Homo sapiens: one gene and its partners. The protein of the gene in region 3 purifies or fractionates together with the protein of the main gene of each other region. This does not show direct contact. Each region holds a gene or a part of one and is shown on either strand. Other genes may lie near its edges.

The links.
Region 1: the proteins of DNAJC2 (region 3) and SERBP1 purify together in Homo sapiens (affinity purification with mass spectrometry; 2 studies listed by BioGRID and IntAct, with this or other methods). This does not show direct contact.
Region 2: the proteins of DNAJC2 (region 3) and H1-10 purify together in Homo sapiens (affinity purification with mass spectrometry; 2 studies listed by BioGRID and IntAct, with this or other methods). This does not show direct contact.

What each region holds. Positions count from the first base shown.
Region 1 is NC_000001.11:67,420,081-67,427,999, forward strand, and holds part of SERBP1 (SERPINE1 mRNA-binding protein 1), read right to left. Parts: intron 6,206-7,919; coding exon 6,055-6,205; intron 5,144-6,054; coding exon 5,003-5,143; intron 4,898-5,002; coding exon 4,808-4,897; intron 4,243-4,807; coding exon of another isoform or gene 4,198-4,242; coding exon 4,120-4,197; intron 107-4,119; coding exon 1-106. UniProt on the Homo sapiens protein: Ribosome-binding protein that promotes ribosome hibernation, a process during which ribosomes are stabilized in an inactive state and preserved from proteasomal degradation.
Region 2 is NC_000003.12:129,313,949-129,320,981, forward strand, and holds H1-10 (histone H1.10), read right to left. Parts: upstream 2,339-7,033; 5' UTR 1,955-2,338; coding exon 1,313-1,954; 3' UTR 823-1,312; downstream 1-822.
Region 3 is NC_000007.14:103,334,208-103,342,126, forward strand, and holds part of DNAJC2 (dnaJ homolog subfamily C member 2), read right to left. Parts: intron 7,748-7,919; coding exon 7,557-7,747; intron 3,605-7,556; coding exon 3,529-3,604; intron 1-3,528. UniProt on the Homo sapiens protein: Acts both as a chaperone in the cytosol and as a chromatin regulator in the nucleus.

The DNA.
Region 1 (7,919 bases), on a different chromosome or scaffold from region 3:
GATATTAAATTCTACTTTTGCCCGGTCCTTATTTTGAATAGCCTTCCACTCATCCAAAGTCATCTCTTTTGGACCCTCCTCTTTTACCTCTTCAACTTCATTCTCCCTGTGAAAAGGTTTTCAAGTTTTATACCTGGTAGAGAGCTGATATTACATAAAAGTATTTTAAATTTATGATTTTAATTGAGAAAATTAACCTTGTAATCTTTTAGAGAAAGATTATTCAAGGATGAGGGTACCCTAGTTTCCTATGTAACTAAGCAACTTGGTAGAGACCAGGAATTCAGTGTTTGCTAATTAGAGACAAGTAAGGAATATGGAATTCATACTTATGAACTCTTAAATGATCATTTATCAGTAATACAATCTAGAACTGGCTTTACGAATACTAAAATACACATTTCTTAAAAACACTACCTTGTTTAAAAACTACCCTCTTATGTAAAATCCTCAGCCTATCTTCTCCTAAACCACATTTTTAATTTCCATAATTCCCACAATATGTAACTCTTAATAACATACAAGAAGGTAATCCTCTAGGATGTCTGTCAGCAACCAGGGTTCAAATTTTGGAATATAAAAGAACTGTTCCTCTATGCTTTGTTTCAGCAACTAGCACTTAGAGCAAATCAAAACAATAGCCGTGTTTCTACAAATCCTAAAATCCTTATACTCCAATTTTCAAACCAACCTGTATATGGAAAGGAGGCCATGGATTCACTACTAATAGAACTATCCACAAACACACACTGGTTTCATTATTTAATACTAAACCATTTATTTCCAAATATAATTCTCAGGTCTTAACTATAGAATATGATCCTTTCCTCTTTTTACAGAAACAAAGCACAGGCCTAAGGATCCATTATTTTAGTATAATCTCAATCTGCAATTGTCACCAAACAAGTCATTTGCTATTTGGGGAGCCCTGCTTCTTTCCAAAGATAGCAGGTGATTCAGTTAGCCTTAGAGCTCAAATATCTCCCTGGATGCTGCCCTTTACTGTTTGACAAATGCTATCTTAAAAGTTCCTCCAGTTACATCTATGCTGCAAAAAAAAAACAAAAAACTTCCTAGAGCAAGTTTATATTGAATTGACAGGATCTTGGGATCTTGGGTACTGAGTCCACCTAGTCATTTTACAGATGAGAAATCTAAGAATATAAAAAAAGTCCTGCTTACCCATATGTTATGACACAGCCAGGAATAGAACTTAGCATACCTTTTATCATATCATGGAGGCATGACACCTACCTTTCAGGAATTACTGCAAGGATTAAATAAAAACCAAACAGAAGCTCTGGAAGCTATATATAAGTTAGTTCATCAAAGTCAGCCAATGTTGTGTTTCTTAAATTTATACTTCCATATGCTATGCCCAGATTCTCCCCTAGTCTGGAATAAGATTACAGACAGTTCTAATGTGATGGATAATTATTTTCTTTAAACCAAACACCCTCAGTTTCGCTCCTGGGCACTGAGCTAAGGATTTGCTACCAATAGCCTATCAATACATTAGTACCTTTTGGTAAACAGTTATAATCTTTGCATATCACTGAGTGATTGAACATGGGCTCTATTAAACAGTTGTGGTTGGACACGGTGGCTCACACCTGTAATCCCAGCATTTTGGGAGGCCAAGGCGGGAGGATCACTTGAGGCCAGGAGTTCAAGACCAGCCTGGCCAACATGGTGTAACCATGTCTCTACTGAAAATACAAAAATTAGCCAGGCATGGTGGAGCATGCCTGTAGTCCCAGTACTCGGGAGGCTGAGGCAGGAGAATCGCTTGAACTTCAGAATGGCCAAAATCGCGCCACTGCACTCTAGCATGGGAGACAGGAGACTGTGTCTCAAAGAAACAAAAAAAAGTTGTGTTGACCACTATGAGAAACTTAACGTTGCATAGGGTTCATTTGTTAAGGCACCAATCACAACTTCATTGTTTATCATGCAAAATTATGATTCCATTATAGTTTTGCATAAATTTTTATTACCAAGTTCAAAACATCACCCAATACCATGTATTTTTATCTACTCCCTCCAATAGTATATCATTTTTCCTTATCCCAACAAATCCACGGAATATGATATTCCCATCATTAACAGTGCTCACCATAAGAGCAAATTCTTTCTGAAGAAAAGAAAAAGTTTAAGGTGCGGCAGCTCACGCCTGTAATCCCAGCACTTTGGGAGGCCAAGGAGGGCAGATCACCTGAGGTCAGAGTTCGAGATCAGCCTGACCAACATGGAGAAACCCATCTCTACTAAAAATACAAAATTAGCCGGGCGTGGTGGCACATGCCTGTAATCCCAGCTACTCAGGAGCTGAGGCAGGAGAATTGCTTGAACCCTGGAGGCAGAGGTTGCAGTGAGCCGAGATCACGCCATTGCACTCCAGCACAGGCAACAAGAGCAAAACTCCATCTCAAAAAAAAAAAAGAAAAAAGAAAAAGTTTAGAAAACATCTGCCCCTCCCACCCCCCAACTAACTTGAATATGCTTCTGGTTAGGAATCACTGTCCTAAATAACCTGTAATCCAAGACTTTAAACCACAATACTGTAACAAATAACTGGCAAAGTAAACATGATTTTAGGTCAGGCGTGGTGGCTCATGCCCGTAATCCCAGCACTTTGGAAGGCCAAGGCGGATGCATCACCTGAGGTCAGGAGTTCGAGACCAGCCTGGCCAACATGGTGAAATCCTGTCTCTACTAAAAATACAAAAAATTAGCTGGGCGTGGTGATGCATGCCTGTAATCCCAGTTACTCGGGAGGGTGAGGCAGGAGAATCGTTTGAACCCAGGGGGCGGAGGTTGCAGTGAGCCAAGATAGCGCCACTGTTACTTCAGCCTGGGCAACAGAGCGAGAATGTCTCCAAACAAAACAAAACAAAACAAAACAAAACAAAACAAAACAAAACACCATGTAATTTTAAAAGCTAGTGAAGGGCTGGGTGTGGTGGCTCACACCTGTAATCCCAGCACTTTGGGAGGCCAAGGAGGGTGGATCACCGAGGTCAGGAGTTCGAGACCAGCCTGGCCAGCTGGTCTAAAAAATATAAAAAATTAGCCAGGCATGGTGGCGGGTGCCTGTAATCCCAGCTACTCCAGAGGCTGAGGCAGGAGAATCGCGTGAACCCGGGAGGCGGAGGTTGCAGTGAGCCGACAGTGCCACTACACTCCAGCCTAAGCAACAAGAGTGAACTCCATCTCACACACACAAAAAAAAAAGTTAGTGAAGGGCTGGGCAAGGTGGCTCACGCCTGTAATCCCAGCACTTTGGGAGGCCAAGGTGGGTGGCTTGCCTGAGCTCAGGAGTTGAAGACCAGCCTGGGCAAAATGGTGAAACCCTGTCTCTACTAAAAATACAAAAATTAGCCGGGCCTGGTGGCAGGCACCTATAGTCCCAGCTACTTAGGAGGCTGACGTGGAAGGATCATTTGAGCCCAGGAGGCGGAGGGTGCAGTGAGCCAAGATCACTCCACTGCACTCCAGCCTCGGCAACAGAATGAAATCTTGTCTCAAAAAAAGAAAAAAAAAAAAAAAGATAGTGAATAACATACTCTGATCTTTGCTCTCTTCATACATTTAAAAACAGGCCAGTAATGCTATGTTCCAAATTCTACATTGGAAATAACTTCAAGATAGAACTAATGTTAAAATGGCCACATTTTCTAGTTTTAACTATCTCAAAGTAAAATTTGTACAGTTGTATGACAATGGTAAAATGACTAATCAAACAGAAATAACCACATTAAAATATTCTATTTTTCAAAGCGTTAGAGTCAAATATATACACATAAACCACTCTTTTAAGGGCTGGGTGCAGTGGCTCATGCCTGTAATCCCAGCACTTTGGGAGGCCAAGGCAGGAGGAACGCTTGAGCCCAGGAATTGGAGACCTGCCTAGGCAATATAGTGAGACCCTGTCTCTATTAAAAAAAGAAAAAAAAAGCATTCTTTCAAATACTCTTTGAGGGATGAGGGTACAGTAAGTCTCCCTTGTCAAAAACAAAAAGCCATCAAGTAACAGCATTAAATCTATGGGTTATCTTATTGGTAAAACTCCAGTGCTTTCAATTCTGGGTCATTACTATTACACGCAATACCACTTACTTATTTTCAGTGTCTGCCACTGGATGATGTTCTTCACCTTCAGGTGTTTCCTCAGTCACATTTGATTGATCCAAGTCACTGTAATTATAAGATATTTGTTTCTGAATGTATTTGGGGGACTCTCTAAGGAAAGAAAGAAAAAGAAAGGCATCTAGGTCCATTTACATGTAGCTGAAAAGTTCTTCATACAAAAATACCATAAGCTCTCACATTCTCTAACTCCTTTCTTACTAAATATACTCCCCAGAAGACGTCGAAAAGTAAACAATATAAACTAGTTAGTTCATATACTTCATACTTAAAAAGTAACAGAACAAGGCAGTTAATTATAAAATGAAGCTTTACTAGCTTATCAAATTTTGTAATGACAACAAAGTCAAAAGCTAGAATAGGAACTATTAAGGACACTAAGATAATCAGAATACCCAAATAACCTTATTGTGGGGTTTCAGGAAAAGCTACAAATACATATGGGGGGGAAAAAATGAGTAACAAATATATCGAAATATTAAAAAACCGGTCATTCAATATACTATAACCCAAACCCATCCCATAAGACATTATCTTGTAATATAGTAACTCTCAGAAGAGAGCATTCATTCTTATCTCAGAGACAAGTAAAATTTGACAGAGGTATGGATTAACCTCTAGTTAGGTATAGAATTTTTAAGAAAATCAGAATACCAACGTTAATTCGTCTTTGACAGTTCCCCAGTTGTGAGATCCGCTACCTCCACGTTTGTCCTCGTGCTTCAGGCCACTGTAATGTGAAAAAGAACTAACAAAACTGAGTTAACATAATACTCTTTAGTTCTAGAAATTCAAAGTTTGTTTATTAAATAGATTAAAATATTAAAGTAAAATAAAAACCAGTAAGACTTACGATCTATCACTTCCACTATGCCTATCAAATTCACGTTTGCCACGAGAATCAAATCCATCTCCTCGGCCCATTCCACGTCCACGGCCCCCTCGACCTCTTCCAAGACCACCACGACCTCGAATAGGTCGGTCAATAATCGGTCTATAATATAAACAAATAAATTATACTTCCATGGTTTCCAGAAGAAATGAGGAAAATTCATCCAAAAGATCAAAAATACAGAACATGTTTACTGGCTCAAAAACCAATAGTTAAATACATACACTTCAGAAAATTCAAAATAGTCTGTTTCTAAACACAAAGGAAACCAGAACAAGACAGCCTCCCAAAACAAGAAAACTATTTTAGCACTCTAAAGCATTACTACCAGTGCATATACTTTTCCACTGCTATTCATTGCACATATAATCCAGTCCATCACTATTTACCAATACACTTAAAAATTAAACACATCTAACTTGCATAAGTAATTTATTTGCTATAAACAATAAACCAACAGTATTTTCCTTCAACTAACAGTATTTTCCTTTTAACTCTGTATCTGGAGAGAGAAAGAAAAAGAAATTGGTTATCAATTCAACAAAGTGTTTCCATTACAAGAGACCTAAGTTTGAACTGTTACCCAAAGATCTAAAGCTTAACAATGCACACATACAGATGTTTCTGTGAAAAATTAATAGAAACAATTAGCCAGACTGCTACCTGGCAATTATGCCCAATTTATAGCTTAACATTAAAATGTGACTCTATAAAGTAACAAAATATGAAGACTTCTTTGGTTTACGCCTGTAATCCCAATATTGCAGGAGGACAGCTTGAGCACAGGAGCTCAAGACCAGCCAATGCAATATATATAGTGAGACCTCAGCTCTACAAAAAAAATTAGCAGTGTGGTGGCGTGACCTTGTAGTCCGAGCTACTCAAGAGGAGACTGAGATGAGAGGATCATTTGAGCCCAGGAAGCAGAGGCTGCAGTGAGCCAAGCTTGTACCACTGCACTCCAGCCTACATGTTAGACCAAGACCCTGGCTCAAAAACAAGAAACAACTTACCTATCAACTGAAAATTCGCCTCCTTCACCCTTTTCTTCAAGTGGCTTTTCGAATCTTCGTTCACGAGGTGGTCGCCTTTCTGGTCTTCTATCAATTATTTTCCCTTCACCCTGAAGTTGTTGATCAGGTCTTCTTCCAACTCGTCTTATTCCTAAAACGATAAGATAACCTGCATAAGCAAATTATTTTTGCAATCCAAAAACTTTAGGCCTGGACTGTCAAAAGCTGCTTCTCTTCCAATCCACTACCATTTCCTGTTGGAAAAAAGCAAACACTGGGCAACTCTAATGTGTAACAAAGTACCTTAGGAAAACTGCCATTTAAAGACAATAAACCTTCCAATCCATACCACCGACTAAATACATAAATAAATAAAATAAAAACAATAAACTTATTTTAAACTTCTATTTAAGTTTGCCAAGTTCTCCCCCTCAAAAGCATTTTCTATAACTGACTTGGAAATCATTTGGGCAACCATTATTCCCGTCACTTTCCAAGATAGTCTCTTAATAAAAACTTTTAAATTTAAAAAATTTTAGGCAAGCAATACATTTTGGCTTTTAAAATACCAAAGAAAATACCAGCAGCCATTCATAAATAACCAAGCAAATCAACACACTCACTAGATATGGCCCCTCACAAAAGTGAGGGCCGCACTATGTTATTCTATCTAATCTGAAAAAAAAATGCAATTAAGACTCATAATTCTATAAAATTACAAATCTGAAAGGAAAATATGGCATTTAGGATTATTAGAGAACATCACTTCAGTTTAAAACAGCCATTTAACCAGAAAAAGTGTCATCTTTTGGTCTTCTTAGCTACAGGCACACAAAAAGGGCCATCTTCCCCTATTAAAGTTTAAAATTTTATAGCATGTAAGTGTATATATGTTTGTACACACTCCCACATCCCTAAGTACTTCCAAGTTAGGAAACAGTTACTTATTATGCATGGAGAGAGTCCTCTAAAAAATTTGCCCTAACAACTATCTTTATTTTCAAAGAATCTTTAAAAACCAAATACACACACGTTAAGACCGCTTTTAAGCAACATGTAAGAAATAAGAAAACTTGTGACACTAAGTGATAGCTGAAGCATTTACTAATTTCCCCCTTTACTACTTTTTTCCTGTAATGTCTGAAACCCCACAAAGGCAACCAATTTAAATTATTGGTGCCCATAAGGATCAACAGATTGATGGTTAAATTAATGACTTTAAGATTGTTGGTATGCTCTAATTCCCAATTTCTGACAAAGTCATAAAGCAGCTGAGGAATTGGTTTTACAAGATTTTAAGCTGCTTCACTTTGGTTCTTTCTAAGAAAGTAGAACACCATCAAGACACACCCAGTTGTTCTGCTGCCTGTTAACTGGAGCCAAACAGTAACTATCAATCTCTTCAATAGAATTTTGAAGTTCATTCCCTGTAAATACTCAAGATAGACTACAAATATTAGACCTTACACCAAGGTATTTAAATAAATGTCATCAGTAATAAAGTGCACTGGGGTGGAGTTATGGAACCAGTCCTTGCAATAATATCCAAGCCAAACACACCCAAGTGAACAATAGTTGGCGTCCCCACCCAATATCAAGTTTACAGAATCTTAAAAACGTATTAAACCTACCTAATGAAAAAGACTGACATTTAAAAATGCAAGCTTCTTTTGATATACTTATCTATAACTTGCAAGCTCACTAACTGCACTAGTTTCAAGGCATTCATTCTTTTTTAGAAAATCCCTGGTCTACACTCTCAATGACATTCTGCTGTCAATTCTCAAGTTCTTCAAATGGGCAAGAGAATGTACAAAATTAATTCATAAAACATAAACATTAAATATCTGTCTAAAGTATGTCAA
Region 2 (7,033 bases), on a different chromosome or scaffold from region 3:
GTAGTTTCTGCAATTTCTTACACAGAGGGTAAAACGAGCTCTCCTGCATTCTCACCTAACTCCAGTCACTCACGCTGGTATGAGTATATATCCACTGTTTCAGAAGCTTCCCTGTTTCCACTGCCCTTGGGGGCCTGTTTTGCAGTTGTCCATTTTTAGGGACATCTGTTAGAATAGACCTTGACCTATTGCCCAACTGGACAGACAACTATCCCACATGCTGGATACCAGAATGTCCCAGGGCTGGAGATCCTTCTGCTCCTACTAATTTTCCCAGCAATCCTTTGGGTCCCGTTTGCACTCTAGCTTAACCAATAGGCTCAGAGACAGCAAATACCCTTCTGAGACCACACGTTGGATTGTGGTCAGGAACTCCACTCTCTGGCCACCACACTTCGTCCTGGTCACATCTCACTCTAACCCTCGCTGGAGTCAGAATGACTAAGTTTACAGGCCAGTCTGGTGTGACTTTGTAAGAACTACCTCTCTGGAGGCCAAGTTTAGGTCCCTGACCATTAACTCTGAAAACCCATTAATCCCCCCTCCTCTCCCCTCCCCCATCCCGCTCCCCGCAATGGCCGATGGACCCCCTGTGGGGGCAGATAGATCCATCCCTCCTAAGGGACCGATCCTGTCTATCTCCCTGTCCCAGGTACTTTAAGTTCGTCCCAAGCCAGCAATTCCCACCCCTTGCTGAAGGCCCCTGGCTCCAGGCCTACCCTGGCCAACAGATCTGGGGTATAAGGACCCGAGGGGCCCGCCATCCAACCCCGCGTGCCGAAGGCGCCCATCCCTATTCCACTCAGATTAAACGAGAGAGGCTGAAAGGTTTAAACGCTTTATTGTGCCCAAAAAAAGGCCCATGGAATGAAGGGAAGAGCCGCGCAGCCCTGAGCCCGGAGCGATTGTTTGTCGCGCACCCAAAGGCAAGGAGGGTGGGGAGCTGGGAAAGGATGCGCGGCCTCCGCGTCCCCGCGCGCCTGGGCCCGGCCAACCAGCGACCCCGCCCGGTGGGCAGGCGCGGCCTCGGCCATCGGCGCCTAGGGGCCAGTAACCATGACGACGGCCGTTGCCAAGGCCGAGAGCCAATAGAGGCGTCGCCGGGGCTGTTTCAAAAACCTAAAGCAAACAACGAAAAACGCTACATCGTTGGGGGAGGGGAAAGACTGAGAGGACCCGGGGCCCCTCCCTGAGGCTCAGACCAGGCCTCGCGGCCCCGGCCGGCGTGAGCCGTACAAAATCTACGTCACTTGGGGTAGAAAAACAAAAACACCGAAAAGCCCACGCCGGCCGCTCTGACCGGCCGACACGCTCACTTGCGGCCCTTGGGCACTTTGGGGACGCTGGGCTTGGCCGCCTTCTTCACCTTCTTGCCCCCGGCGGCCGCCGTCTTCTTGGCCTTGCCGCCTTTGTCCTTCTTGGCGCCAGCGCCCTTCTTGTGCGAGCGCTGCTCCGGCTTCTGGCCCCTGGCGGGCTTCTTGTCCGCGCGCCGGGAGCCGGCCGCGCCCGGGGCTGCCTTCTTCGCTTTGTGCGCGGTGGGGGCCGGGGCGGTGGCGGCCGCCGGGGCTCCGCGCCGCTCCCCGCCGCCCTCCAGCTTCTTGCGGTTGAGCTTGAAGGAACCGTTGGCGCCGGTGCCCTTCACCTGCAGAAGCGTGTCGTTCTGCACCAGCGCCTTGATCGAGTACTTGAGGTAGGTGCGCCCATTCTGCTGGTCGAACCACGGAACCTTCTTGGCCTCGGTGTAGATCTTGGCCAGCGACGAGCCGTTGCGCTCGCCCAGCCTACGGATGGTCTCCACCACCAGCTGGCTGTACTTGCCCGGCTGGTTCTTCTTCTTGCTATTCTTCCTCTTCTTAGATGGGGACAACGCCGCCGAGCCGCCAGCCTTGGTCACCTTCTTGGCCATTCCCTCGGCGGTCGTCACTGGCAGGGCCTCCTCGAGCTCCACGGACATGGTAGCAAGAGGATTGGTGGCGGGCGGCGCGCGGAAGCCGGGGGGCCGCGCCGGGAAGAGGAAGGCGAGGGGCCGAGGGGGTGCAGGGGGGCTGGGGGCGCGCGGCGGCTCCAGGCGGGAGCGGCCGCGGCCGGGCCTGGGGCCGGGCGGCAGGGCTGGGGTGGGGGCCGGGCCGGGCCGGAGCGAGGGTTGGGGGGCCCGGAGCCGGGGCCGGACTAGGGGACCGAGTTGGGGGTCAGAGACCGAGTCCGAGCCGGCGGCTGGAGCTGGGGACGTAGACCTAGGCCGAGCCGGAGCGAAGAGAAATCCCGCCGAACGCGAGACACCGCCGCCGCAGCTTCCACTGGCGCCTCTGGAACTCGCTGGGCGTGCGCGCTGCGCTCTGGCGGGAGGGCGCTTCTCTCGGCTTTTTATAGCTTCATGGCGGACCACGTTGAGAACAACAACAGCCTGGTCCGGGGCCAGCGCCAACTTGTGCTTCTTGGAGCCCCTTCTCCGGCCGCTGGCTTCTCGGACCGCGCCTCTCCAGCGCCGCCGCGCCCGCAGCGGGGCGCCCCGGACAGGGCCTGAGCTCCCGGCGCAGTGGAGAGGCGACTTGCGTCCTGGAAGGGCTCAGCAAAGGCGAACGGAGAGGTGCACCCTAGGCTGCGGGAGCGCGAGAGGAGGGGGGCACCTCGTTTGGAGGCCAATAGCGCGGGCCCCAGAGGAGGCCCCACGGCCGGGAGCTTGGCGGCCGGCAACCCAGAGAACGCCACGGGCACCCGAGCCTTGTCCCGGCCCGGGGGGCTCCAGGCCTGCCCGCAAGAGGAGCTTTAATTTGTCCAAACTAACACAGGGCGCGCCCTCACGTGGTCGGCTGGGGCAACGTGAACTGCGCTAGGACATCCTCGGGGGTTTTCCGCCCCATCCAAAGGGGATGGCGGATGGGAGGCACTCTCCAGCTGCACCCCGGGTTCTGGTTGTGCCTCTGGGAGCCTAGGCACAACCCGGGGAATGGAGGACTACGGCAGGACCTCTCTAGGGACACTGCCTCGCCGCTCCCCCCACCCTGTTGCCGCTGATGTTCCCAGGGCCTCATTTTGTAATCCACAAGTAGCTGCCGCCGGTCCCCCCAAAGCCAAATGGGGGCTCCAGGGTGGGACAGGGTGGGCGGGGGTGAGGCTGTGACACCCAGAGGAATTCCTGTGAGAGGATGGGGAAGGGATTCGCTCTTAGTTCCTGGGTGCACCCCTCCCCCTCTCCCGTGCACAGGGAAATGATGGCGGGAACACAGCAAAGGAGACCATGTCCTGGAGAGGGTCCCGGGCCCCACCCTCCCCGGGGGGGCTTGTGCAAGGCTGGCGGCCCGATCTCTGCTGATTCCAGTATTGGGGGTGCAGAGAAGGCACAGGACAGTTTTTGTTGAAGCCGTTGCAGCCTCCACTTGGGGAAGCTGAGGCCAGGGTAAGATGCTCGGGTAGGAGAGGGGATCCCTTTGGGGGTAGGTGATGTAGGGCACAGGAGTGGGGCTGGGGCTGGGGGGTGGCAGGGTTGCAGGCAGGAGACAGTCTCCAGAGGCCCAGCATAGAAAAGCGATGGAGGGGTGAGGGGGGACAGGACGCTGGCGAATTGGGGTTCCCAGAGTGAGAGACAGGAACATTTACAGGTGGACAGAGTAAAAGGCCCTGAAAAGGGGGTGGGTTGGTGCATTTGTGGCCTTGGGCCCAAGCAGGCTTCTCTGGGTGAGGGCTAGCAGCACCTCCCCTCTTCTCCAGCTCACCCCTTTCACACACACACACGCCCCCCATTTTGTCACCCTGTCAAGGGAATAAACCCCAGAGAGGAAGAAATTATGTCTAGGAGGAAACGGTGAGCCTGGATGGGTTTTTTAGGGGGGAGGCTGGCAGGGGCATGGAGCCAGGAAACAGCCTTCGCCCCCCAGAGCACCAGGTACCCTGAGAAAAGTGAGAAGAGAGATTGCAGCCCAGGTCCCTGCAGAGGAGGATGGGCTCCTTTCCCAGGAAGGACTGGCTGAGTGGACTGTCTCCAGGGCACAGGACAACGTTGAGGGCCTGAGGCCTCCACCTTCTTGAAGAAGGACCATGTGAATTTCCTGACAGAGAACGGGGATGGGTTTCTGAAAGCACCACCCAGCTGAGCCTGCCGAAACTGCACAGCTGTTTCCAGGCCAGGCTGGCTGCATGGAGGACGTGAGAGGAACAGCCAGCTGTGTGTGCTGGGCCCACTGATCAGGGTGCTCAGGACCAGGAGCCTTCTGAGGATGTGCAGAGGGGACTCTGGGGAGAGGAACATGGTGGCCACAGCTGGAGTGACCGCAGTGTACAGAGATGGGATGGGAGCAGGAAACCCAAAAGAGCCGGCCCTGGAACCAGGTGGAGGGGAGGCAGCCCGGCCATGACCCAGAGCAGGTGATATGATTTGGATCTGTGTTCCCACCCAAATTTTAGGTTCAGTTTTAATCCTCAGTGTTGGAGGTGGGTCCTGGTGGGAGGTGATCAGATCATGGGAGTGGATTCTAATGGTTTAGCACCATTCCCTCGGTGATGTCCTCATGATGGTGAGCTATCATGAGATCTGGTTGTTTGAAAGCGTGTTGCACCTCCCCTGACTCCCTCTCTTGGTCCCGCCCCTGCCATGTAGGACACCTGCTCCACTTCACCTTTTGCCATGAGTAAAAGCTCCCTGAGGCCTCCCAAGAAGTTGATGCCCTGTGCTTCCTGTACAGCTGCGGAACCGTGAGCCAATTAAACCTCTTATCTTTGTAAATTACCCAGTCTCAGGTAGTTCTTTATAGCTTTGTGAGAATGGACTAATACAAGGGGCTTGAGCTTGGGTCTTTTGAAAAGTTAAAGGGTGAGCAGAAGCGATACCCCTGAAGGAGTCCCAGCCATGGGCAACAGGGCCATCGCTTGGCCTTTTGTGCAGCCACCGCAGGGGGGAGGAGTGGCATGCTGGACATGCCACTCTGGAGCTGGCTGCAGCCACAGGCTGGGCCAGGGACACTCCTGGGTCATCTGTGCTGGAGGAAGGGGATGCTCTAGTGGAGACAAAGGGACAGGGTCACGGAGGAAGGCGGGACCCAGGTGTGGCCTCCTTCATGACATCTGAGGAGAGGAGATTCGAGAGAGGAGGGCTGGGCACCGCAGCCAGTACAGCCACTCACAAAGTAGAGCCGCAGTCCGGGCACTGAGGAGAGCGGCCAGGCTCGCAGCCACGGTGCCCCGGGGGACCTGGCTGGGACTGCAGGGGAGAAGCAGTCAACACAGGGCTGGAGCCCTGTGGGCAGGGCAGTGCTGTCCAGTCCCGGGGGGAGGACACGGAGGATGCAGCTCAGACCCCACACCAGCCTTGGTGGGCACACGGGCTGGGGGCCGGCTCCTCAGCCTGTGAGGGGAGCGGGGCTTTTGTCAAGAGGGAGGCTGCCTGTGGCGCAGGGCTCAGAAGACTAATTCTAGACTTTGGGAGCTGGCATAGACTAAGTGGGATCTTCCACTTGCCCTCATGATATGGTAGAGGCAACTGAGGCTTGAGGAGGGGGTTAGCCAGGAGACCAGGACTCAGGCTGGGGTCTTGCAGCCTTCAGGGTGCCTCTTACCCCCACACTGCTGGTCATCCCTTCTGCATTACCCCACCAAGGAAACTGTAGGTGGGGAAGGTCCCAGGTCCTCAACCAAAAAAAATGGCCAAATATGAGAAAAGGAGCTTCTGGAAGTGGCCAGGGCCTAGCAGAGACCAGGGCAAGACCATGTGCCCAGCACCTGAGTCGCGCCCTTCCCTGGGCCTGGCCAGTCTGGAGGAGGCTCTGGCTTGTGAGCAGTGGGGTTTCTGGGGTCGGAATCTGGAAGGGGCTCTGTGGCTGCTGGGCTCTCTCTCTCCTCCTTATCTAGGGGATTGTTCAGTCCTGGGGCTGCAAACACCACCAGTACCCTGATGATGCAGTTCATTTCCCTAGCCCGAGGTCAGCCTCTCTCCCGTGCAGACCCCAGCATCCCGCTCCTCTTGCCACCCTCACCTGGAGCCTGGGTGTGGCCAACACAGACCCTGCTCCTCCCAAACTTTTGCCAGTGATTCTGCCCAGAGACAGGGACTGCTCCCTGATTTCCCTACTCTCTTCCAACCCATGGCTTCCTCCCCATCTACCCCAGAACTGGTCCCACAGCTGCCGAGCCCCCACCCTCTCTACCCTTTCCACCCAGCCTCCTGTTCTGTCCGCACAGCCCCAACACAGAAGTCTGAGTGGTGGGTCCTGGCTCTGCCAGAAGGTCTCTAATGGCTTCTCACCAGACGTAGGGTAAAGTCTCCCAATGCCTTTGCCACTGGCCCCTACCAAGGCTCTGACCGCAGCTCCCCAGCTGAGCACTCAGCCTCATAGCCTTTTTTGCTGCCCACACATACCCAGAGGGTTCTCAGGACCTGGGACTTGCTGGGGTGGCCCCATGGCTGGCTCCTTCCCTGGCCGGCCTCCCTAGACCCCTCCCTAGGGCTCCTACCAGAGCACCCTCCCTGCCTGGCTCACAGCCCCTGCCATCTAGTATGTCCGTTGAGTTGTGGGCTGTGAGCTAAGTGCAGGGTGGGGGAGGTCATGCTCCTAGCTGTACCAAGGCGGGGTGGACACAGTGCGCTCCCGACACAGACACACCTGCAGCAGCAGCGGATGGGAGGATGGGGGTCAGGAGCTCCTGGCTGGGCTCTGACCCGGGCTGTCCTTCAAACGCTGGGTGTGATCCCTTCCCCACCACCACTGCCCAGCCTCAGTCTCCCAGTTTGTATAAAGGGGCTGGATGTATGGAGTCTGAATGATCCAGCTCGACAGTCTGATTCTGGGCTTCCAGACACACACTCACCATTCACACCTACAGTTCACACACACAGACACCTACTCACTCACACTCAGATTTACCTTCACACACGCTCACCATTCACAGCCACAGTTCACACCCACAGACACCTACTCACACATATTTACCCTCACACATGCTCACCATTCACACCCACACTTCACACTCACACTGATACCTACTCAGTCATGCTCACACACACTCACACCATTTACACTTACAGTTGACACACGTACACATC
Region 3 (7,919 bases):
CCCAAAGTGCTGGGATTACAGGTGTGAGCCACTGTGCCCGGCCTGTTGTGAACGTTTTTGCAGAAATCTTTTGGCTGGGCACGGTGGCTCATGCCTGTAATCCCAGCACTTTGGGAGACTGAGGCAGGTGGATCACTTGAACTCAGGAGTTCGAGACCAGCCTGGTCAACGTGGTGAAACCCAGTCTCTACTAAAAAATACGAAAATTAGTCAGACATGTTGGCAGGTGCCTGTAATCCCAGCTACTTAGGAGGCTGAGGCAGAAGAATGAGGCAGGAGAACCACTTGAACCCTGGAGATGGAGGTTGCAGTGAGCCAAGATCACGCGACTGCACTCCACCCTGGATAACAGTTAGACTCCGTCTTAAAAAAAAAAAGAAAAGAAATCTTGAAAAAAAATTTTTTTAATTAAAAAAAAAAAAGAGAGACAAGGTCTTGCTATGTTGTCCAGGTTGGTCTTGAACTCCTGAGCTCAAGTGATCCTCCAGCCTTAGTCTCCCACAGTGCTAGGATTAACAGGGATGAGCCACCATGCTTGGCCTATAGAAATCTTTTCATGAGCATAATAAAATTATTTATTTCAACATATACTGCAAGGGTTCAGAAACAGTGACAAATATTTTTGGTATTTTTTTGGGCATTTTTTGAGGCAGTTTCCCTCTGTCACCCAGGCTGGAGTGCAATGGTGCAATCTCGGCTGGCTGCAACCTCTGCCTCCCAGTTTCAAGCGGTTCTCGTGCCGCAGCCGCCCAAGTAGCTGGGATTACAGGCATGCGTCTCCATGCCCGCCTAATTTTTATATTTTTAGTAGAGACGGGGTTTCGCCATGTTGGCCAGGCTGGTCTCGAACTCCTGACCTCAGGTGATCCACCTGCCCCAGCCTCCCAAAGTGCTAGGATTACAAGTGTGAGCCACCGCACCCGGCTCCTACTTCACACTTAATTAATTTTCATTACTGACATTCAAAATATACTCAACAAAAATAAAACTTTGCTTGTAATATGAAGCAAGCATTCAAAGGACATCAAATGGTACCAGATTTACATTTTTATTAGGTTTGTGCTAATAATTATAGATTTGCAAACAGTAACTTTGCATTTTAACTTTTAGATAGATTTTCAGAAAGCAATGAGTAGCAACTGTGTTTTACAGTGACAGAGGTGAGAGAATGACAGTTTCTTTCTAAATAAAGACTGACGGAATATTCCACAAGGGTGGTAGAGAGTAAGTTAGAATTACCCTTATTGTTAACAATCTCTACACTGGTGCTGCAAAATTTTTGGCTAGAGAATACATATTCAAAAGCTGAATTTCTTTTCTTTCTTTCTTTCTTTTTTTTTTTTTTAATGAGACAGAGTCTCACTCTCTCACTCTGTTGCTCAGGTTGGACTGCAGTGGTACAATCTTCGCTCACTGCAACTTCCGCCTCCCAGGTTCAAGCGATTCTCATGCCTCAGCCTCCCAAGTAGTTGGGCTTACAGGCATGCGCCACCGCACCTGGCTAATTTTTGTATTTTTAGTAGAGATGGGGTTTCACCACATTGGCCGGGCTAGTATTGAACTCCAGCCTCAAGTAATCTGCCTGCCTTGGTCTTCCAAAGTGTTGGGATTACAGGTGTGACCCACTGTGCCTGGCTAAAAATCAATTTCTACAAGGCCAATAAAAAGAGTGGATTTAGGCTGGGTGCGGTGGCTCACGCCTGTAATCCCAGCATTCTGGGAGGCCGATGTGGGTGGATCACCTGAGGTCGGGAGTTCGAGACCAGCCTGACCAACATGGTGAAATCCCGTCTCTATGAAAAATACAAAATTAGCCGGGCGTGGTGGCACATGCCTCTAATCCCAGCTACTCAAGAGGCTGAGGCAGGAGAATCGCTTGAACCTGGGAGGCGGAGGTTGTGGTGAGCCAAGATGGTGCCATTGCACTCCAGCCTGCGCAACAAGTACGAAATTCTGTCTCAAAAAAAGACAGTGGATTTAACAGAAGCATATGAATGCTTCTTTTACAATTTATTGCACATTTTTAATCTTCTGAGAAAGAATTCTTTCACCTTAAAACACAAACTATTCTCACAGTTCTATTATCAATTCTAATTAACAAATTTATCTGTACTAAGACATATTTGGTATTTGTATGCTATTCTATTTTTTCGGAAACAGAGTGTCGCTCTTGTTGCCCAGGCTGGAGCGCAATGGTGCGACCTCGGCTCACTGCAACCTCTGCCTCCTGGGTTCAAGCAATTCTCCTGCCTCAGCCTCCCAAGTAGCTGGGAATACAGGTGCCCACCACCACACCCAGCTAATTTTTTTGTATTTTTAGTAGAGACGGTGTTTCTCCACGTTGGCCAGGCTGGTCTCATATTCCTCACCTCAGGTGATCAACCCGTCTCGGCCTCCCAAAGTGTTGGGATTATAGGCGTGAGCCACCACGCCCGGCCAATGCTATTCTTTCGTATAGTAAAACTTTGCAAACACTTGTACGTGGCAAATGGACTTTTCTGGCATTTATTTATACTGGAATAACTATTCACATGCATTACCATATGCTTTGTCTAGACTCATGCCAGCCTTTAAACAAATCCAGTTTAAAATAATCTGATAAATTCCTTCACTTTGTTAAAAAATATTTCCTGTGATTTTCCTAAATGTAAGCAGTAATGGGGACGATTTTGAGTTCATCTACTATGCTAAGTATTGACTAATAATTTTTACCACAGGCATTCTTATTCAGTCATCTTCCTCCACATATAATACTTCCTCTTCTTGACAGGCCCTGACTCCCTGCTCCTTTTCCATGTGGCCACAATCTTACCCTCTCTGACCTCAATATCCATTCTCTAGAGTGGAGGGCAGAACATTCTCCTAAGATAGAAAACTGATCACCTTCACCTCTTACCTCTTTCACTAAACTTTATTAATCAGTTGAACTGATCACGTGTATAAGAAATTATGTCCACAGGATTGCAAAGCATAGGACATTTAGGAGCATTAAGGGATGGTGTTTTATAAGGCATATGAAGACTGGGGTCCCAACATTACCCTCTCCCATGCCAAATTATAACCTTGTCAATGAAAACAACAATAAAACATCAGACAACTTTTCTTGGACAGAAGACAGGGTGATATCTACAAAGGTGTGACCTAAGATTACAAAATAACGTAAAAAAAAAACCAAAAACCAAAAAACAATAAAAAGGCAGTATCCACTAAGTGCAGCTGCTATACTTCTAAAGAGAGGTGAAGTATTATTTTTTAAAAGCTTGCCATTGGAGGAGTATTTTGTATCCACACACACACACCCATCCTAATTTCTTATCCCTAATGGGAAAGTCTATATGTAAAATGGATTGCTTTCTTCTGATTCTGAAGGCAGGGGAGACCGTGGTTTTTTGCTTGTTATGACAATATAACACATGCTGTTAAATGTAGTTATGGCTGCAGACTATGATACTGTATATCTTTTAAAAAGCATAGCCAGCCTGTTCCTATACAAGATATTTGATTATTTCAAAATAACTAAGTACTTACGAGCTGCTTTGATCTGTCTCTGTGTAGCCTTGTATCTCACATGGCCAAGTCCAAGAACTGCATAATGATCTTGGTTCTGGAAAAAAAACACAAAAGGGAGTCAAATTTGAAATGAAGCCAATATATTCCATCCCTTGTGTTCTGGTACCTTAATAAGCATTTCCCAAAGTGACATTTCATCAGGAGTCCAGTAAGAGGTTCTGTATAAACCAGGGTCTATGGTCAGGTAAGGTTGAGAAATGTGGATTAGGCTGGGTGCCATGGTTCATGCCTGTAATCCTAGCACTTTGGGAGGCCCAGGTGGAGGATTGCTTGAGCCCAGGAATATGAGGCCAGCCTGGGCAACAAAGTAAGATCTCTGTCTCTACAAAAAAATTTTTAAAAATTAGCTGGGTGTGGTGGTGTGCACCTGTAGTTCCAGCTACTCAGGAGGCAGAAGTAGCAGGATTACTTGAGTCTAGTAAGTAGAGGCTGCAGTGAGCTGTGATCATGCCACTGCACTCCAGGATAGGCGACAGAGCAAGACCCTGTCTTTTTTTTTTTTTTTTTAATGATTTTAAGATTTTATTTTATTTTTTTGAGACGGAGTCTTGCTCTGTTGCCCAGGCTGGAGTGCAGTGGTGCCATCTTGGCTCACTGCAACCTCCGCCTCCCGGGTTCAAGCAATTCTCCTGCCTCAGCCTTCCAAGTTGCTGGGATTACAGGTGCACACCACCACGCCTGGCTAATTTGTGTATTTTTAGTAGAGACAGGGTTTCACCTTGTTGGTCAGGCTGGTCTCGAACTCCTGACCTCAGGTGATATACCTGCCTTGGCCTCCCAAAGGGCCAAGGGATTACAGGTGTGAGCCACTGCACCCGGCCAAGACCCTGTCTTTAAAAAAAAGAAGAGACAGGCTGGGCATGCCAGCTTACGCCTGTAATCCCAGTGCTTTGGGAGGCTGAGGTGGGTGGATCATGAGGTCAGGAGTTTGAGACCAGCCTGGCTAACATGGTGAAACCCTGTCTCTACTAAAAATACAAAAATTAGCCGGGCGTGGTGGCGCCCACCTGTAATCCCAGCTACTCGGGAGGCTGAGGCAAGATAATTGCTTGAACCTGGGAGGCGGAGGTTGCAGTGGGCCAAGACTGCGCCACTGCACTCCAGCCTGGGCAACAGAGTGAGACTCCGTCTCAAAATAAAATAAAATAAAAAATAAATTTAAAAAAGAGGTAAATGTGGACTATTATACAGCCTCCTTGATGATTTGTATGCACAAAGGCCTAAGAAAGGCTCTGAGAAGTCCTGTAATTAGATTTAAAAAATAAACAAACAGAAACCTGTAAAACCTAGCATTTTCCAAACTTACTTGACCAAAGACCCCTTTTTTCTCTTAGCACCTGTTGATAGCTTATGGCCATCCTATGGAACTTATGGCTACATGTTCTTGTTTACTTATTATGTCACTGGAATATAAGCTGTGTGTAAGCAGTAATACTGTCTTGTTCAGTACAGTATCCTTGACACCTAGAACAGTATCTGACATGGTGTTTGATCCATATTTGATGAATGAAAATAAACTGAACAAGTGAATGAACTCTGCTACCTTACTCTGATACAATCTACTTCTTTCTATACCAAAGACCTTCTCCCTCTTATAGATCTCAACACTCCCCAGTTCTGTCTTTTCCCGACTCTGCCTTCTCCTGAAGTTACTATCTTCTCTCATTTTCTTTACTACCCAGCTTTGAAAGAGTACTTTACACTTTGATCCTACTTCATCACTTCCTAATCACTCTTCATTCACTGTAATCTCTTGCCTTCCCGATCATTTTACTCAAACTGCTTTCAATGAGGACACCGAAACTTTTAGTTTGCCAAATCCAATGGTTTTTTTTTTTTTTGAGATGGAGTTTCACTCTTGTTGCCCAGGCTGGAGTGCAGTGGCACGATCTCAGCTTACCGCAATCTCCACCTCCCAGGTTCAAGCGATTCTCCTGTTTCAGCCTCCTGAGTAGCTGGGATTATAAGCATGTGCCACCATGCCCGGTCCAGTGTTTTTTAAAATAATTTTTCATGTTATGTGATTGACCTCTTTCTGAAGCAGTGACACAGGTGACTCTTCCCACGCCCCTTTTTTTGAGATAGAGTTTTGCTCTTGTTGCCCAGGCTGGAGTGCAATTGTATGATCTCGGCTCACAGCAACCTCCACCTCCTGAGTTGAAGTGATTCTCCTGCCTCAGCCTCCCAAGTAGCTGCGATTACAGGCATGTGCCACCACGCCTGGCTAATTTTGTATTTTTAGTAGAGATGGGGTTTCACCATGTTGGTCAGGCTGGTCTCGAACTCCTGACCTCGGGTGATCTGCCCGCCTCAGCCTCCCAAAGTGCTGGGATTACAGGCATGAGCCACTGCACCCTGCCTCTTTTTCCCTCTTGCTCCTCCCTTAGTTTCTGGAAGAATACGCTGCCTGATGTTTAGGAAGTATTTCTTCAAATAACAAAGTGTCTTTTTCTTTGTTTTCTTTCTACTTCTGTCACCCTTCTTAGTATCTTCTGCTGTTTTTCCTCCTCTTCCTACCCCTTAAATATCCATGCTCCCCAATGTTGTCTTTTTCTTTTAAAATGGATGAGGTGGTGGGAGAATCAGCTAACACTTTCTGAGTGCTTACTTTTCTAAATGTTTTATACATATGCTTTAGCTTATTTAGTCCTCTAAACAACCAATGACATAGGAACTCTTATTATCCATTATTTGTTTGGCATTTATCATGCAGCAAGTACTAACTTAAGTGCTTTATAAGCATCCTTTTATTAATCCTCAAGGTAAACCTTTGAGCTGTTAACAATCTCACTGTAGCAACAAGGGAAATGAGGTACACACATATCTGGGAACTTTCCCAAGGTCGAAGTGCACCAAATGGCAGAACCAGATTTGAATTCAGGCACTCCAATTCCACAGCATACGCATTTAACTATTATACAAGTACCTACTAAAGCATTATCTATTTGTTTATACTTTTGTCCCTTGCTGTTGTCATTCAATTCCTCACAGCAACCACCACTATGTGCCAATGACTTCAAAAAGTCTTTGGCTGTAACCTCTTTTTGGAGTCATAGACCAATTTCTAACCATCTACTAGACAGCTTCACCACTATGGTACCAAAACCTCAGTCTTCACATAGTCAAACTTGGACACAAACAGCACCTCCCACAAACATTCTTATCCTCATCCCAGCATTGGTTACTGACCACACACTCTAGCAGGTCACTCAAGCGCTAATGCTGGGAAGGACCTCTGAATACTTCTCTTTGTCTTGTGCCACACAGCCAGGGTCACCAAAGCCTGTTAATGCTACCTCCAAAAAAGGCAAATCTGACCCCTCTTCCTCAAAACCCAGCCACATAGTAAGTTCAAGGATTCAGTCACAGGTCTGCCTTAGTGCACTAGCCCTATAACAGTAAACTATTCACTTCCCCTCCAGTCCCTTGCCCCCTTTCAAGCAATTTCCTGTACTGCCAAGGGAATTACTTTTCTAAAATTAGCTAAGAAACTTTTGATGGTATCTTACTGTCCCAAAAATAAATTTTAATTCCTTCTTTAGCATGGTATAAAAAGGACACAACAGAGTTTGGTCTAGTGTCCTTTTAAAGACACTAGATTTCTCATCACCATACCGCATGTACCCTATACGACTTATCAATTCCTCAAGAGGCACTACATATTCTTTTACTCCTTTGTGTCTTTGTATATCTTACTCCTTCTGCCCAGAATACTTTTCTCACTTCTCTGCTTCACTAATTGCTGCCTGTCCTTTTAAGACCGGTGCAAACATTATCTTTTCTGTGAACTCTTCCTGGATTTCTCCAGCAGAGACAGTATCTCATGGCTAGTGCTAATGCTCTCAAGACTTAGTAATAAACAGATGCTAAATCATAGTTATCTTGCTGAATCATCTTAAAACATGTTTATTAATGGAAAACTCATAAGAAAATTGTCTATGTCTAACAAAGCATCTGACTGAACAAAATATTCAGATATTAAATACCTTCCAGTCTTTGGGATCAAGTGTTTTCAGCATGGGAAACTCTTCCAACTGCAATTCTTCATCTTCTGATTCCTCGGATAACTCTTTCTTATCCTCCAGTTCCTGAAAAGAGGCAGAAGCATTTCTGTTTCTCCTCTTAACAAAAGCTTCAAACCATCTTCCCACAGGTTCAACTTGACAGAGTGTAGAGGCTGTGATTGAAAGTGTTAAGAGAGGCTTCAGTGTATCGCATGGAATAAATATGTTTCAAGGCAATTAATTTTTTCAGGAAATAAAATCAAAACAGTGATACCAGCATATACTTTTAAAACCACCGACTACGAAAATAATTGCAGTCATCCAGTTTACATGAGGGTTAGCAAG